2 separate regions of the Homo sapiens genome follow, and region 1 is linked to region 2. The links come from fine-mapping of genetic effects on gene expression. Tissue or cell type: neutrophils. Region 2 holds a variant in brackets; the other region holds the start of a gene. All regions are shown on one strand. Distances are from middle to middle.

Region 1 (8,091 bases), 51 kb before region 2:
GCAGAAAGTACAGAGAATTCCAGGCTGGGAGTAATGGCTCAAGCCTTTAATCCCAGCACTGTCGGAGGCCAAGGAGGGAGGATCACTTGAGCTCAGGAGTTTGAGACCAGGCTGGGCAAGATGGTGAAACCCCGTCTCTACAAAAAATAAAAAAAATTAGCCAGGCACAGTGGTGCACGCCTGTAGTCCAGCTACTTGGGAGGCTGAGGTTGAAGGATCACTTGAGCCCAGAAGGACAAGGCTGCAGTGAGTCAAGATTGTGACACTGCCCCTCCAGCCTAGGCGACAGAGGGAGACTCTGTCTCAAAAAAAAGAAAAGAAAAAAAAAAAAAGAAGAAGAAGAAAGTACCGAGAGTTCCCATATCCCCCTTCAGGCTCCCCATTTTTCCTATTATTAACTTTTTGCATTAGTGTGGTACATTTGTTACAACTGATGAGCCAGTATTGGTATATTATTAACATAGCCCAGCCGGGCGCGGTGGCTCATGCCTGTAATCTCAGCACTTTGGGAGGCCGAGGCGGGTGGATCGCCTGAGGTCAGGAGTTCAAGACCAGCCTGGTCAACATAGTGAAAACCCATCTCTACTAAAAATACAAAAAATTAGCTGGGCGTGGAAGCGGGTGCCTGTAATCCCAGCTACTCAGGAGGCTGAGGCAGGAGAATCGCTTGAAACTGGGAGGCAGAGGTTGCAGTGAGCCGAGATCGCATCATTGCACTCCAGCCTGGGCAACAAGGGGGAAACTCCGTCTCAAAAAACAAACAAACAAAAAAACATAGTCCATATTGATACATTATAATTAACTAAGTCCATAAGTTACATTAGGCTTTACTCTTTTCCACACACAAGTATGACATGTATCCACCATGACACTATTACATCATACAAAATAGTTTCACTTCTGTAAAACTCCCCTGTGCTCCACCTACCATCCCTTCCTCCCCCCAACTCCACTTCCCTGGCAGTCACTGATCTTTTTATTATCTCCATAGTTTAGCCTTTTCAGAATATCATACAGTTGGGGCCAAACGCACTGCCTCATGCCTGTAATCCCAGCACTTTGGAAGGCTGAGCAGGAGGATTGCTTGAGACCAGAAGTTTAAGACCATCTTGGGCAACATAGCAAGACCTTGACTCAAAAAAATACATATATATATGTCATATGGATGGAATCATAGTTTGTAGTCTTTCCACATTGATTTCTTTCGCTTAGCAATATGAATTTAAGGTTCCTCCATGTTTTCTAATGGCTTGATAGCTTTTTTTTTTTTTCCTTGAGATGGATCCCATTATGTTGCCCCGGCTAGTCTTAAACTCCTGAACTAAAGTGATTGTCTTGCTTCAGCCTCCAGAAAAGCTGGGAATAGCTGAGACTACAGAAACATGCCATTTTTTTTCCTTTGTAGTAGAAGTTAGAAAGCTTTTTTTTTTTTTTGAGATGGAGTCTTGCTCTTTCACCCTGGCTGGAGTACAGTGGCGCAATCTGGGATCACTGCAACCTCTGCCTCCCGGGTTCAACCGATTCTCCTGCCTCAGCCTCCCCAGTAGGTGGGATTACAGGCACGTGCCACCACACCCGGCTAATTTTTGTATTTTTAGTAAAGACGGGGTTTCACCGTATTGGTCAAGCTGGTCTCGAACTCCTGACTTTGTGATCCACCTGCCTCAGCCTCCCAAAGTGCTGGGATTACAGGTGTGAGCCACCGTGCCCGGCCTTTTTTTTTTTTTTTTTTTTTTGAGACAGAGTCTTACTCTGTCACCCAGGCTGGAGTGCAGTGGTTCGATCTTGGATCACTGCAACCTCCACCTCCCGGGTACAAGTGATTCTCCTGTCTCAGCCTTCTGAGTAGCTGGGATTATAGACGCCTGCCACCACACCCGGCTCATTTTTTTTGTATTTTTAGTAGAGACGGGGTTTTACCATGTTGGCGAGGCTGATTTCAAATTGCTGACCTTAAGTGATCCAACCGCCTCGGCCTCCCAAAGTGCTGGAATTACAGGCGTGAGCCACCGCGCCTGGCCTCAAAAAAAAAAATTTTTTTTTTCAGGACGGCGTCTTGCTCTGTCGCCCAGGCTGGAGGGCAGTGGTGCGATCTCGGCTCACTGCAAGCTCTACCTCCTGGGTTCACGCCATTCTCCTGCCTCAGCCTCTCGAGTAGCTGGGACTGCAGGCGCCTGCCACCACGCCCGGATAATTTTTTGTATTTTTAGTAGAGACGGGGTTTCACCGTGTTAGCCAGGATGGTCTCGATCTCCTGACCTCGTGATCCACTCGCCTCGTCCTCCCAAAGTGCTGGGATTACAGGCGTGAGCCACCGCGCCCGGCCAAAAAAATTTCTAATACGGCAAATATTGAAAGATATAATCCACATAAACAAAGCTTTTAGGGTCTTCTATAATTTCTAACACTGTAAATGGTTCCCAAGACCCAACTGTTTGAGAACCGCTTCTCTGGGATGCCTTCTTCTTTTCCTGCTGGCTAATCCCAGTGGAGAGATTTAGGTATTTAATTCTGCTCCAGACTCACCTCTGAGAACCTTCCCTGATGGGCCACACTCTACTCACTGCCCTTGCTCTGTATCCCCTCTTCAGTTATGTTGTTCCTGTTTCCCTGGCTGCTTTTAATTTTCTTTCTTTCTTTTCTTCCCGCCTTTTCTTTTCTTTCTCTTTCTTTTTCGTTTTTTGTTTTTTGAGACGGAGTCTCACTCTGTCGCCCAGGCTGGAGTGCAGTAGCGCGATCTTGGCTCACTGCAACCTCCGCCTCCTAGGTTCAAGCGATTCTCCTGCCTCAGCCTCCCGAGTAGCTGGGATTACAGGCGCACGCCACCATGCCCGGATTATTTTTGTATTTTTAGTACAGACGGGGTTTCACCATGTTGGCCAGGCTGGTCTTTAACTCCTGACTTCAAGTGATCCGCCCGCCTTGGCCTCTCAAAGTGCTGGGATTACAGGCTTGCTGCCGCACCCGGCTTGTTTTTTTTTTTTTTTTTTTTTGAGACGGGGTCTCACTGTGTCCCCCAGGCTGGAGTGCAGTGGTGCGATCACAGCTCCCTGCAGCCTCGAACTACTGGGCTCAAGCGAACCTCCCACCTCAGCCTCCCGAGTAGCTGAAACCACAGGAGCGCGCCACGACACACAGCTAACTTTTTTTTTAGTGTTTTTTCTTTTTTTGTTGTTGCCTTTTTTTTTTTTCTTTATCGATCCTCCCGCATTGGCCTTCCAAACTGTTGGGATTACAAGCGAGAGCAGTGCCCGGCCCCTACTGCTTTGAAACCTCGGTTCTTTGCAGGTCCTGGAAAAGAAAGTGAAGGGGTCGTGCAATGGCTCAAAACCCAGGCAACATTTCCAGGCGCGTCCTCAACTCGGCGTCACTCTGACAAAAAGTTTGCCCTTTGCGCCCGATCCCTCACACCAGAGAGCACCGCAGGGACGCAGGGACGGAGAGGACTAATGGGGTCGGGGAGGACCCAAGGAAGTTGGGGAACTCAGACTCTTTTCAGTGTTTAAAAAGCAGAGGCCCCCTCGGAAGGCATAACAGGCGAGTCTAACAATGCCCCTGGAGATCAACGGCACTAAGGGGTACCTTTGCCCCGCTCCAAGGCTCCTTGTTCCGCCCCCTGCCGCCAAGCAAGGAATCCGGCGCCGCCGGTCGTGGGTAGTATTTACGACAGTGCTGGCGCTTTGCGGCCGGCCGCACAGCCGCTGACGCGTCGGGAGGCGGAGCCTAGGGAAGCAAATTCTCCTGGCGGCCTCCGTTCAGACGCGGCAGCTGTGACCCACCTGCCTCCTCCGCAGAGCAATGGCGGTGTCTGCCGGGTCCGCGCGGACCTCGCCCAGCTCAGGTAGGCTTAGGACCCCGCCCTCCGGCGGAGAGTTCCTAGGAGCGCTGGTCTCAGAGGGGCGGGGGCGGGAGGACGCCCAGTGTCTCCCGGTGAGGCGGGGGGGGGGTCCTCTGTGGGGAAGGGGGCGTGCTGTGAGACATTTGCAGCCTGCGGCTTCTGAATGATGATGACATTCGGGAACACTGCGGTTAGGGGACTGTAGTCTGAGGGGTTCTGGGACATTAGGGGATCGTGGAGAGGGGGCTGCACTGCAGGGATGTTTCCTATAGTCAGATCATTGAGGCAACCTCATTGAGCCGACCCGGGTGGGCGGAAGCTCTGAGCTGTTGGTGCAGTGATTTCTTTGATTTGAGGTGGAGCCCACCCCCGCACACATATTTTCTCCATTTATTGATTGCAGATAAAGTACAGAAAGACAAGGCTGAACTGATCTCAGGGCCCAGGCAGGACAGCCGAATAGGGAAACTCTTGGGTTTTGAGTGGACAGATTTGTCCAGTTGGCGGAGGCTGGTGACCCTGCTGAATCGACCAACGGACCCTGCAAGCTTAGCTGTCTTTCGTTTTCTTTTTGGTGAGTCCAGTTTATGGGTGGGAGCAATTTGGTTGAGAGTGGAGAATGACAATCTCTATTTTTTGGTTGCAAGTAGACTTAGCTCCCTTTTCCTCAGAGCTGAAGACATTGGTATAAAAGAAGAGGTCTTTGCGAAGTTTAGGATTAAACCTGCTTTGTCTCCTACAGTTAGGATTTACTTGGTGGCCAGAAATGCTTTTTTTTTTTTCCTTAGACGGACTTTCGCTCTTGTTGCCCAAGCTGGAGTGCAATGGCGCTATCTCGGCTCACTGTAACCTCCGCCACCCGGGTTAAAGCGATTCTCCTCCCTCAGTCTCCCGAGTAGCTGGGATTACAGGCGCCCACCACCACACCCGGCTAATTTTTTATTTTTTTTGTATGTGTGTTTTTAGTAGAGACGGGGTTTCACCATGTTGGCCAGGCTGGTCTCAAACTCCTGACCTCAGGTGATCCGCCTGCCTCGGCCTCCCAAAGTGCTGGGATTACAGGTGTGAGCCACCGTACCCAGCTAGAAATGCTATATGATATGTAGAGGCGAGGCAGCAGTGACCCATTTTGCTTGTGGCATGAAGTTGCCCAGAAGACTCAGAGAAACAGAGCAGGGGGCCACAGGGACCATACCTTTTGGCTGTGACTCCCTAATCAAGAGCTTCTTAACTGAGGCCGCAGCATGGTGTGCTTGGAATGGTTTACAGATGTGCAGAGATATTAGTCCCCTTAGCCCAGTAGTTCTCAACTGGAGGGAGTTTTGCTCCCTGGGAGACATTTGGCAATGTTTAGAGACATTTTTAGTTGTCACAACTTGGGGGAGGAAGAATAGGTGGCTGCTGGCATCTCTATAGAGGTCAGGGAGTGCTCCTAAATGTCCTGTAGTGCATTGGATAATCCCCTCAATAAATAATTAACCAGCCCAAAATGTGACTAGTCCTGAAGTTGAGAAACCCTGCTTTATCTCAAGCTGGCTTCCTGATCTGAGTAGCCTCTTCTGTTTATTCCCAGGGTGTTGACGAAATGCAACTGTTTTTGGAGTGTGCCAGGAAGCAGAAAAGGTTGAGAAGCACTCCCAGAGCACTTTCTTTCTTTCTTTCTTTCTTTTTTTGAGACGGAGTTTCGATCTTGTTGCCCAGGCTGGAGTGCAATGGTGTGATCTCGGCTCACTGCAACCTCCGCCTCCCAGGTTCAAGTGATTCTCCTGCTTCAGCTTCCCGAGTAGCTGGGATTACAGGCATGCGCCACCACACCTGGCTAATTTTTTTGTATTTTAAGTAGAGACGGGGTTTTTCCATGTTGGTCAGGCTGGTTTCGAACTCCCAACCTCAGGTGATCTGCCCACCTCAGCCTCCTAAAGTGCTGGGATTACAGGCGTGAGCCACCGTGCCTGGCCTCCCAGAGCACTTTCTGAAGCTCAATAGGATGGATCTTTATAGCTGTCAAGACCCTAACAGTTTTTATAGCATTTTGTGCATTTCTGTAATTTAATCCTCTCTGTAGTCCTGTGATGTATTCCCCTTCTCACAAATGGGGAATTGGTTAACCGAGCTGCAGGGGCTGTTCTAGATGGCACAACAGATGTAGTACTGTGCAGAGTAGGCACTCAATAATTAATACTGAATAAATGGCAGAGCCAAGATTAGAAAAGAAGTCTGACCCTGGAGCTGCACACTGTCAACTGTGTTCCACTGTATTCTACTGCTTCCTTAGCTGAGGCCCAATGACCAACTCCCCTATTGCCTTCTTAGGGTTCTTGATGGTGCTAGACATTCCCCAGGAGCGGGGGCTCAGCTCTCTGGACCGGAAATACCTTGATGGGCTGGATGTGTGCCGCTTCCCCTTGCTGGATGCCCTACGCCCACTGCCACTTGACTGGATGTATCTTGTCTACACCATCATGTTTCTGGGTGAGGGGAACTGTGGGAAATATTGACTGGCCTGCCAGAAACACAGAAATAGAAGCATGCTGGTGAATGGTCAAAGTCTTTGGCACCTTATTTCACTTCTGCTGTGATCAATTTCATGCTGTTGACCTGTGTGTCACTTAAGCTGTGATCCCATAATTCTTTTTAAAATATTAAAATAACATTTAATTTTCATTTAGTTTTATGTGATTATACAATGCTTGATTTTTCTTAATTCCAACCATATCCTGGTCCAGGGAAACTGGGCCTGTGGTGATCTCTTGACCTCTTAATCCTCTCCCTACAAATCCCAGGGGCACTGGGCATGATGCTGGGCCTGTGCTACCGGATAAGCTGTGTGTTATTCCTGCTGCCATACTGGTATGTGTTTCTCCTGGACAAGACATCATGGAACAACCACTCCTATCTGTATGGGTTGTTGGCCTTTCAGCTAACATTCATGGATGCAAACCACTACTGGTATGAGTCAGGGGGGACAAAGGGGAGGGGTTGGCTGGGTCAGGATGGTTATCAGAGATAGGGGCCCAGTGAGGTTCTGGAATTTTTCAGTCATGTTTGCAAAGTATGGTTACAAGGTCACTTTGATCTAGGTGGATTTGGGAGGGGAAAGGGCCAACTAGTTGGAGCGCTTGGGATGACACAAAGCAAAATGGCTCCATCCCACCCCTTCAGTCTTTCCCTATCTCCCCAGGTGCCTTGATTTATTCACCTCTTGTAACCCTCTTAGAGAGAAAAACAGAATACTAAAGCCAGACATGGCTGTTTTCAGATACTTTAAGGGTGGTTATGTAGAAGAGGGAGCAGACTTTCTCTGTGTGAGTCCAGAAGGGCAGAGTTAGAGCCAAAAGTAGAAGTTGCTGTGAGGCAGAGATCATGTCAGGAGAAGAGGGCCCACCAGGGCTGCTCAGCATTGCTGTTCTCGGAGGAGGTAACCCTTCCCCATTTCTGGCTTAGGTGACTGTCTCTAAGGGGAGGTGGAGAAGGGATTTGGAGATAAGGTGGTGGGGCAGTTGACCTTAAGGATTCTTTATATGTTGAGTGAAAAGTAATAAAATAGGTGTCAATAACATGAGTATGGGGAAAAAAACTCAAACATTGAATTCATTAACAGTCATTAAGTTTTATTTATTTTTCTTTTTATTTATTTATTTTTAAATAGAGATGGGGTCTCGCTTTGTTGCCCAGGCTGGTCTTGAACTTCTGGGCTCAAGCAGTCCTCCCACCTCGGCCTCCCAAAGTGCTGGGATTACAGGCATGAGCCACTGTGTCCGGCCTATTTGTTAATACACACATACAAAACCCCTTTGGTAAAACTTGAAACTCATTCAGAATGGCCAGCTCTGATCATAGAGAATTAAGAGGCAGTTTTGATAGAATATCTCTGAAAAGTTCCGTTGTGGGGATATTTGTTGAGATGGCATCTCACTGTGTCGCCCAGGCTAGAGTGCAGTGGCGTGATCATAGCTCACTGCAGCCTCAACCTTCTTGTGTTTAGGTGATCCTTCCATCTCAGCCTCCTGAGTAGCTGGAACAACAGGTGTGTGCCACCACACTCAGCTAATTTTTAAAATTTTTTGTAGAGATGGGATCTCACTATGTTGCTCAGGCTAGTCAGAAGTTCCATTTTTATGACTTTATGCATTTTGAAAAAATCACTTATCATTTATTCAGGGTTTTCCACATCGCAGGCACTATACTAAATATTTAGAGTTTTTCCTCATTAAAACCCTGTAAGGTCGATGGTGCTGTTCACATTTTATGTT
Region 2 (8,103 bases):
GTACAACATATTAAAAATGTTTTTATCTTAGCTGTCTTATCTGCCTGGGTTTGGGATAGATTTTAGGATTTAATATTATTGGGTCACGTAATATCATTATGTTTATCAGAGTGAAATCTAGTTTAGCCTTTTGCGTACTCAATAAAAACCATCGTGAATTTTAGAAAAACTGCTCAGAGTTCATATTTGAGCAGTTGCGTATTGGCAGCAGCATCTTGATATAAAAGACAACTTGTTATTTTTACGCATTCTGGAATTGTGAAACTTAGAAAGCACATTATGTTTTTTTTTTTAAAGATTATGTTTGTTTAGTGCTTTATATCTATTATAATCCTTATGAAAGCCCCGTGAAGCAAGTGTGTAAGAACTGGCATTTTAGGCTGGGCACGGTGGCTCATGCCTGTAATCCCAGCACTTTGGGAGGCCAAGGTGGGCAGATCACTTGAGGTCAGGAGTTCAAGAGCAGCCTGGCCTACATGGTGAAACCCCGTCTCTACTAAAAATACAAAAATTAGCCGGGCATGGTGGCAGGTGCCTGTAATCCCAGCTACTGGGGAGGCTGAGGCCAGAGAATCACTTGAACCTGGAGGGTGGAGGTTGCAGTGAGCCGAGATCTTGCCACTGCACTCCAGCCTGGGTCACAGAGCGAGACTCCATCTCAAAAAAACCCAAAAATAATAAAAATAAAAATAAAATTTTAAAAAATAAAAAAATTAAAAATAAATAAAGATGAAGAAACCAAAGCCACGGGGCCTAAGTGGTGTGACCAGGGTCACTGGACTCATTGGTGGCTGCATTGGTCAGGGTCTTGGCAAGAAACAGAGGGCACACTCCAGTTGGGTAATTTCAGCAGAACCTAATAAAGGAACTCTTTACAAAAATAGGGGCAGGGTGCAGGGAAGCCACAGGGACAGTGTGTTGTTGTGGGGAGCTACATAGGCTTGCCATGGAGGGAGGAAGGAGGGCCAGGTCACCAGAACTGGAGAGGCCTGCAGTGTCAGTGCACAGAGACCTCCTAGGTCTAAGAACTCAGGATAATTAACACCCAACCCCTCTGTCCTCCCTCCTTCTGATCCCCTAAAGGAGACCCTCGTTGGCCTTATTGGAAGCCAGAGGGCAAGGGAGCCTGCTGAGGTTTCTACACAGGTCAGTCTCCTGGGCACTGAAGAGAGAGAGTAGGGAGTGGCTCCCGGATGGAGTAGGCAACAGAAGATATCCAGCACAGAGGTGAATCCATGAGTAAACCTCAGACTTCCTTTAAAAAAATAATAGTAGGGCCGGGCGTGGTGGCTCATGCCTGTAATCCCAGCACTTTGGGAGGCCGAGGCAGGTGGATCACCTGAGGTCAGGAGTTCGAGGCCAGCCTGGCCAACGTATAGTGAAACCCCGTCTCTACTAAAAAATACAAAAATTAGCTGGGCATGGTGGTGCACGCCTGTAGTCCCAGCTACTTGGGAAACCAAGGCTGGAGAATCACTTGAACCCGGGAGGCAGAGGTTACAGTGAGCTGAGATCATACCACTTTACCCCATCCTGGGCGACAGAGTGAGACTCTAACAAAGCAAAACAAAACAAAATAAAAAATAATAGGTCAGGCATGGTGGCTCATGCCTGTAATCTCAACAATTTGAAAGGCCGAGGCAGGCGGATCACTTGAGGCCAGGTGTTCGAGACCAGCCTAGGCAACATAGCGAAAGCTCGACTCTACTAAAAATACAAAAATTAGCCAGGCATGGTGGCACATGCATGTCATCCTAGCTACTTGGGAGGCTGAGGCACAAGAATCACTTGAACCCGGGGATAGAGGCTGCAGTGAGCCAAGATCATGCTACTGCACTCCAGCATGGGTGACAGAGGAAGACTCGGTCTCAAAATAATAATAATAATATGATAATAATGAATAGATAATTATGTGAGGTGATGAATATGTTAATGGTCTTGATTGTGATTGTTTCATAATGTATACCTATATCAAAACATTAAGTTGGACCAGCATGATGGTTGATGCCTGCAATCCCAGCACTTTTCAAGGCTGAGGTGGGAGGATCACTTGAGCCTAGGATTTCGAGACCAGCCTGGGCAACATAGTAAGACCTCATCTCTACAAAAAATCAAAAAATAGCCAGGTGTGGGGCATGCACCTATAGTCCCAGCTACTTGGGAGGCTGAGGCAGGAGGATCACTTGAGCCTGGGAGGTGGAGTTTGCAGTGTAACCGAGATTGTGCCACTGCAGTCAGCCTGGGCAGCAGAGAGAGGCCCTGTCTCTAAAAAAATGAAAAACAGGGGCTGGGCACAGTGGCTTATGCCTGTAATCCCAGCACTTTGGGAGGCAGAGGTGGGTGGATCACCTGAGGTCAGGAGTTTGAGACCAACCTGGCCAATGTGGTGAAACCCCATCTCTACTAAAAATACAAAAATTAGCCGGGTGTGGTGGCAGGCGCCTGTAATCCCAGCTATTCGGGAGGCTGAGGCACAAGAATTGGTGGAATCCGGGAGGCAGACGTTGCAGTGAGCCAAGATCGCGCCATTGCACTCCAGCCTGGGCAACAAGAGCAAAACTCTGTCTCAAAACAAAATAAAAGAAAAAAAAAAAAAACAACCCCACCCCCTCCAAAAAAAAAAAACCGTTAAGTTGTACACCTTAAATATGTACAGTTGTTATTTGCCAGTTATACTGAAATAAAGCTGAAAAAAAAAACTGATCTCGGACTTCTTGTCCCTTGATCCTATGCTCTTTCCATAACACTGTGCCTGAGACACATAACACTGTGCCTGAGTCCTAGCTCCTAGCACAGAATTTCAGAGAAGTTCCCTTCAGGACCACCCTTTGGCCCACAACATCCCTCAACATTAAACTTTAAGCTCGTTTTCTAAAGCGTTCTGTGAATATTAGCCTCTATGGAAGGATCCCATAGGATCCTTTTTTGACAGCGATCCCATGGGAGCTATAAATCAGACTGGGTCAGGCAGTGGCCTGTGGGCTAGGCCAAGATGGCAGGGCTGGCAGGTTGAGAAAGGTCCCCTGAAGTCATCACTGGTTCTTGGCCATCATCACATCTTGGCAGAGATCCTCAGAGCCTTTAATGCAGCTGTAGTGGGCATTAGCCACGAGGCTGGCAAAGTTTCAAGAATAAAAGAATCCATTTTACTATCTTTTGCATCTGGCAATTAAAGGACCTTGAACAAAAGACTTCATCTCACAGCACTGTTGATAACTCTACGGTTTGCACTTGGCTACCCTGGCTTTATTTTTATATAATCCCTCTGGCATGAGACTCCAGGTTTTATAGAAAGTAAACATCTCGGGGGTGTTGGAGCTTTCTACCTTGGATGCGTTCTTTATTCACCTTTATCCTTGGTTCTCTGAGGGCTAAAGTCATAAAAAGTTTGATGACAGTGACCTCTTCCAAACCCAAGAGCTATGAGAGCAGTGTACTGAGAAATGCAAAGCCCAATGTTCTCATGGAACACAAACTCACCCAGAGGTCACAGAGAAAAAATTCTCAGTTCCTGTTCTGGCAGAATCATTTCCAAAGAAATGAAACCATGGTCACATCCAGCTTTTATGGTCTGAGTGGTCATATTCCTGAAAGAAGCATAACTACTAGAATCTAAGGTGACTTCACTACAAGGTTAATACATTCACTCCCCCAACTCCTCACCCAAATAAGGCCTTATGCACTGTGCATTTTCCCCCACTGCTGGGGGAGGTTTTTCTAAATTTCACTCATAAGCAGTTTACCTGGTACCACTGGAATTGATCAAAGAGGCACAGAGTTGGCCGGGCGTGGTGGCTCACGCCTGTAATCCCA[G/A]CACTTTGGGAGGCCGAGGTGGGCGGATCACGAGGTCGAGAGATCGAGACCATCCTGGCCAACATGGTGAAGTGCTGTAATCCCAGCACTTTGGGAGGCCGAGGTGGGTGGATCACCTGAGGTCAGGAGTTTGAGACAAGACCAACCTAGAGAAACCCTGTCTCTACTAAAAATACAAAATTAGCCATGCATGGTGACACATGCTTGTAATCCCAGCTACTCGGGAGGCTGAGGCAGGAGAATCGCTTGAACCCGGGAGGCGGAGGTTGCAGTGAGCCGAGATCACACCACTGCACTCTAGCCTGGCGATAGAGCAAGACTTCATCTAAAAAATAAAATAAAATAAAATAAAATAAAATAAAATAAAATAAAATAAAATAAAATAAAATGGCCTGGCGCGGTGGCTCACGCCTGTAATCCCAGCACCCTGGGAAGCCGAGGTGGGCGGATCACAAGGTCAGGAGATCGAGACCATCCTGGTAACATGGGGAAACCCTGTCTCTACTAAAAATACAAAAAAGTTAGCCGAGCGTGGCGGCGGGCGCCTGTAGTCCCAGCTGCTTCGGAGGCTGAGGCAGGAGAATGGGGTGAACCCGGGAGGCGGAGCTTGCAGTGAGCCGAGATCCTGCTACTGCCCTCCAGCCTGGGCTACAGTGCGAGACTCCGTCTCAAAAATAAATAAATAAATAAATAAATAAATAAATAAATAAATAAATAAAATAAAATAAAGAAAATGGCTCTAGCACAGTGGCCCTATTGCCATTCCTGCCTCAGGAATTTTGCACTTGCTGATTCCTCTGTTTGGACCACTCTTCCCCCAGATTGCCGTATATGGCTCACTCCCTCACCTCCTTCAGATCTTTATTCATATGCTGCTTTCTCAGTGAGACTTTCCCTGGCCACCCTGGATGCCCTGTTTAACATTGATGCTTCACTCCGGTACCCCATCCCTCTTCCCTGATTTATTCATTTTTTTCCTGTAACACTTAAACCATCTAACCTACTCCCTTCCCTATTATTTTATTTACTTATTTCACTGTGGTAAAATATACACCACACAAAAATTACCATTTTAATAGTTTGTAAGTTTTCAGTTCGGTGGCATTAATTACATTCACATTGTTGTGCAACCATCACCACTATCCATCTCCAGACCTTTTGCATCTTCCTCAACTGTTGAAGCTCTATACTCTTTGAACGCTACCTCCCCATTCCCCACTCCCCCCAGCCCTTGGTAACCACCATTCTACTTTCTGTCTCTATGAATTTGACTACACTAGGTGCCTCATGTAACTGTAACACTAGGATCTTTCTCTCTCTCTCTTTTTTTTTTTTTTTTTTTGAGATGGATTCTTGCTCTGTCGCCCAGGTTGGAGTGCAGTGGTGCGATCTTGGGTCACTGCAACCTCCGCCTCTTGGGTTCAAGCGATTCTCCTGCCTCAGCCTCCCAAGTAGCTGGTATCACAGGCACCTGCCACCACACCTTGCTAATTTTTGTAGAGACGAGGTTTCACCATGTTAGCCAGGCTGGTCTCGAACTCCTGACCTCAGGCGATCTGCCCGCCTCAGCCTCCCAAAGTGCTGGGATTACAGGCATGAGCCACTGCGCCCGGCCAGCCACCAAGCCTGGCCAATCTTTGTCCTTTTATGTCTGGTTTATTTCACTTAGCACAGTGTCTTTGAGGGTTTATCCATGTGGTAGCTTGTGTCAGAATTTCATTCCTTTTTTTTTTTTTTTTTTTAAGGTGGAGTCTCACTCTGTCACCCATTCTGGAATGCAGTAGCGCAATCTCTCGGCTCACTGCAACCTCCGCCTCCCAGGTTCAAGCAATTGTCCTTTCTCAGCCTCCTGAGTAGCTGGGACTACAGGTGCATGCTACCACACGTGGCTAATTTTTGTATTTTTAGTACAGACAGGGTTTCACTATGTTGACCAGGCTGGTCTTGAACTCCTGACCTCAGGTGATCCACCCGCCTCAGCCTCCCAAAGTGCTGGGATTACAGGCATGAGTCACCATGTCCAGCCAGAATTCTGTTCCTTTTTTAAGATTGACTAGCCAGGCGTGGTGGCTCACGCCTGTAATCTCAGCACTTTGGGAGGCCCAGGCGGGTGGATCACCTGAGGTCAGGAGTTTGAACCACCCTGACTAACATGGTGAAACCCCACCTCTACTAAAAATACAAAATTAGCTGGGCGTGGTGGTGCACGCCTGTAATCCCAGCTACTCTGGAGGCTAAGACAGGAGAATTGCTTGAACCTGGGAGCCGGAGGTTGCAGTGAGCCGAGATTGCGCCATTGCACTCCAGCCTGGGCAACAAGAGCAAAACCCCATCTCAAAAAAAAAAAAAAAAAAAAAAAGACTGAATAATATTGCATGGTCTGTATATGCCATAGTTTGTTTATCCATTCATCTGTCAAAGGACATTTGAGTTGCTTCCACTTTTTGGCTATTGTGAATAATACTGCTATGAACATGAGTATACAAATATCTCTTTGAGTCCCTGCTTTCAATTCTTTTTTTTTTGAGATGGAATCTCGCTCTGTTGTCCAGGCTGGAGTGCCGGGGTAAGATCTCAGCTCACTGCAACCTCCGCCTCCCAGGTTCAAGCGATTCTCCTGCCTCAGCCTCCCAAGTAGCTGGGACTACAGGCGTGCGCCACCACGCTCAGCTAATTTTTGTATTTTTAGTAGAGATGGGGTTTCACCATGTTGGTCAGGCTGGTCTTGAACTCCGGACCTCCTGATCCGCCCGCCGCGGACTCCCAAAGTGCTGGGATTACAAGTATGAGCCACTGCACCCGGCCAATTCTTTTGTGTATATACCCAGAAGTGGAATTGGTGGATCAAGTGGTAATTTTATGTTTAATTTTTTGAGGAACCACCATACTGCTTTCCATAATGGCTGCATCATTTTACATTCCCACCAGCCTATCTAACCTACTTTTACTTATATATTTTGTTTAGTGCCTGTCCCCTACCCTTCTTTGAATGTAAGCTCCATGAGGCTAGTAGAGATGTGTTTCCTGAGTATCTAGATCCTTGTTTGGCACATGGTAGTCAGTGTTTGTTAAATAAATGAACTGATTCAGTGCCTCTGACTTCATTTGCATTATTTTGATCCCCATTCAAGGGCTGGCTTAATCCCAGTGGAGCCCTTTTTGGTCCATCTCCCCAGCAGGCTCTTTCCCAACTAGGTGTATGCCTCTTGCAACTCATCCTCACTTTCTGCTTGTATTCTAGTTGTCTGTGAGAGTGCCCTATCTTTCCCTCTGAATTATAATATCCTTAATGTTAGGGAGCTTGGTTTTTTGGCCTTTTCTTATCTTTGTTTTGCCATCTTTCTAGCTCAGGGGCAGAGACTCAATACATTTGTATCAGAAGGACACTCTAAATGTCCAGGCTGAGCAGTGCCACTGTCAAGGATAGGCTTGAGCAGTCCAGAGCTGAGACCAGGCCTCCAAAGAAACTGGCTGTGTCGCTATGGCACGTGCCTCTCTCTCTGAGTCTGGTCCTCTTTTGTCTGATGAGGGGATTAGACCAGTGACCTCTCAGGTTCCTCTTAGATATTACATGTGCTGTGGGACCGAGTGTTTTGCAGGAAGAGTATGGTCTTCATCTGTGAGAGCCCATAGTCTGATAGAGATAAAATAAACATGTAAAGAGCGGTTAGGGAATCAAGAGGAAAGCTGTGCCAGGGCAGTCCTTGCCTGGAGGGATGGGCGCCACATCACCCATCTCCCTCTCTCAGCCCCGCTCCCCACTGCTGGAGCTTCAGAGCACAAAAAATCCGGGAAGCTCCGAGAGGACTTCATGGACATCCCATCCTTGTTGAGAGAGAGAGAAAAAAAATCTTTACAAGCTCACATGATTTCATTTGGTTATTTTAAACTGTTTATCTTTCTGTCCTTTCCCCACGGAATTAACGTTTGCAGGCAAAAAAATCAACTTTGAGAAGTTTTCCTCCTTTGCTCAGCTATTTGTGTATAAATATTCCGTGAGTAAAGTCTCTAAAAGACTGCCAAGCCCCCCACCCACCCTGTTCCCATTCCCTAGTAGTTGCTGACTAAGAAAGACTTAATGAGCTTACATCCAAGAGTGGAATGTTTCAATGACTCTTAAAGCCCTCTATGTATTTTTAAAAATCATTTTATCCCTGGTGGTCTACTGGTTAGGATAAAAAAAAAAGGCTTTTCAAATGCATAAACAGTGCAGTAACAATATTCACAGATTATTTAAACAAATCACTCATAATCTAACAGCCCTCACACTACTCTTTATTTTTACCAATT

Which allele goes with the higher level. Positions count from the first base shown, and alleles are read on the strand shown. Sizes are in standard deviations (SD) of each study's normalised expression.
In carriers of allele A in region 2, the expression in neutrophils of the gene that starts at base 3,734 in region 1 tends to be higher than with G alone (moderate effect, 0.66 SD a copy in BLUEPRINT).

What was found. PIP is the estimated chance that this variant, and not a neighbour inherited with it, causes the effect.
Region 1: GGCX starts here. The variant in region 2 is fine-mapped to the expression of GGCX in neutrophils (BLUEPRINT, PIP 0.91).

Annotation. Positions count from the first base shown.
Region 1 is chr2:85,557,136-85,565,226 of GRCh38, reverse strand. GGCX (gamma-glutamyl carboxylase) reads left to right here and starts at 3,734. Exons shown (of 15, transcript NM_000821.7): 1 at 3,734-3,841; 2 at 4,242-4,412; 3 at 6,152-6,310; 4 at 6,622-6,787. The coding sequence starts at 3,799. RefSeq lists an enhancer at 3,531-3,760.
Region 2 is chr2:85,506,585-85,514,687 of GRCh38, reverse strand. No RefSeq gene overlaps it. Among named protein-coding and RNA genes, the nearest start is that of PARTICL, 28 kb to the left of the region's middle. RefSeq lists a silencer at 1,161-1,340. The variant G/A (reference allele first, on the strand shown) is at 3,814.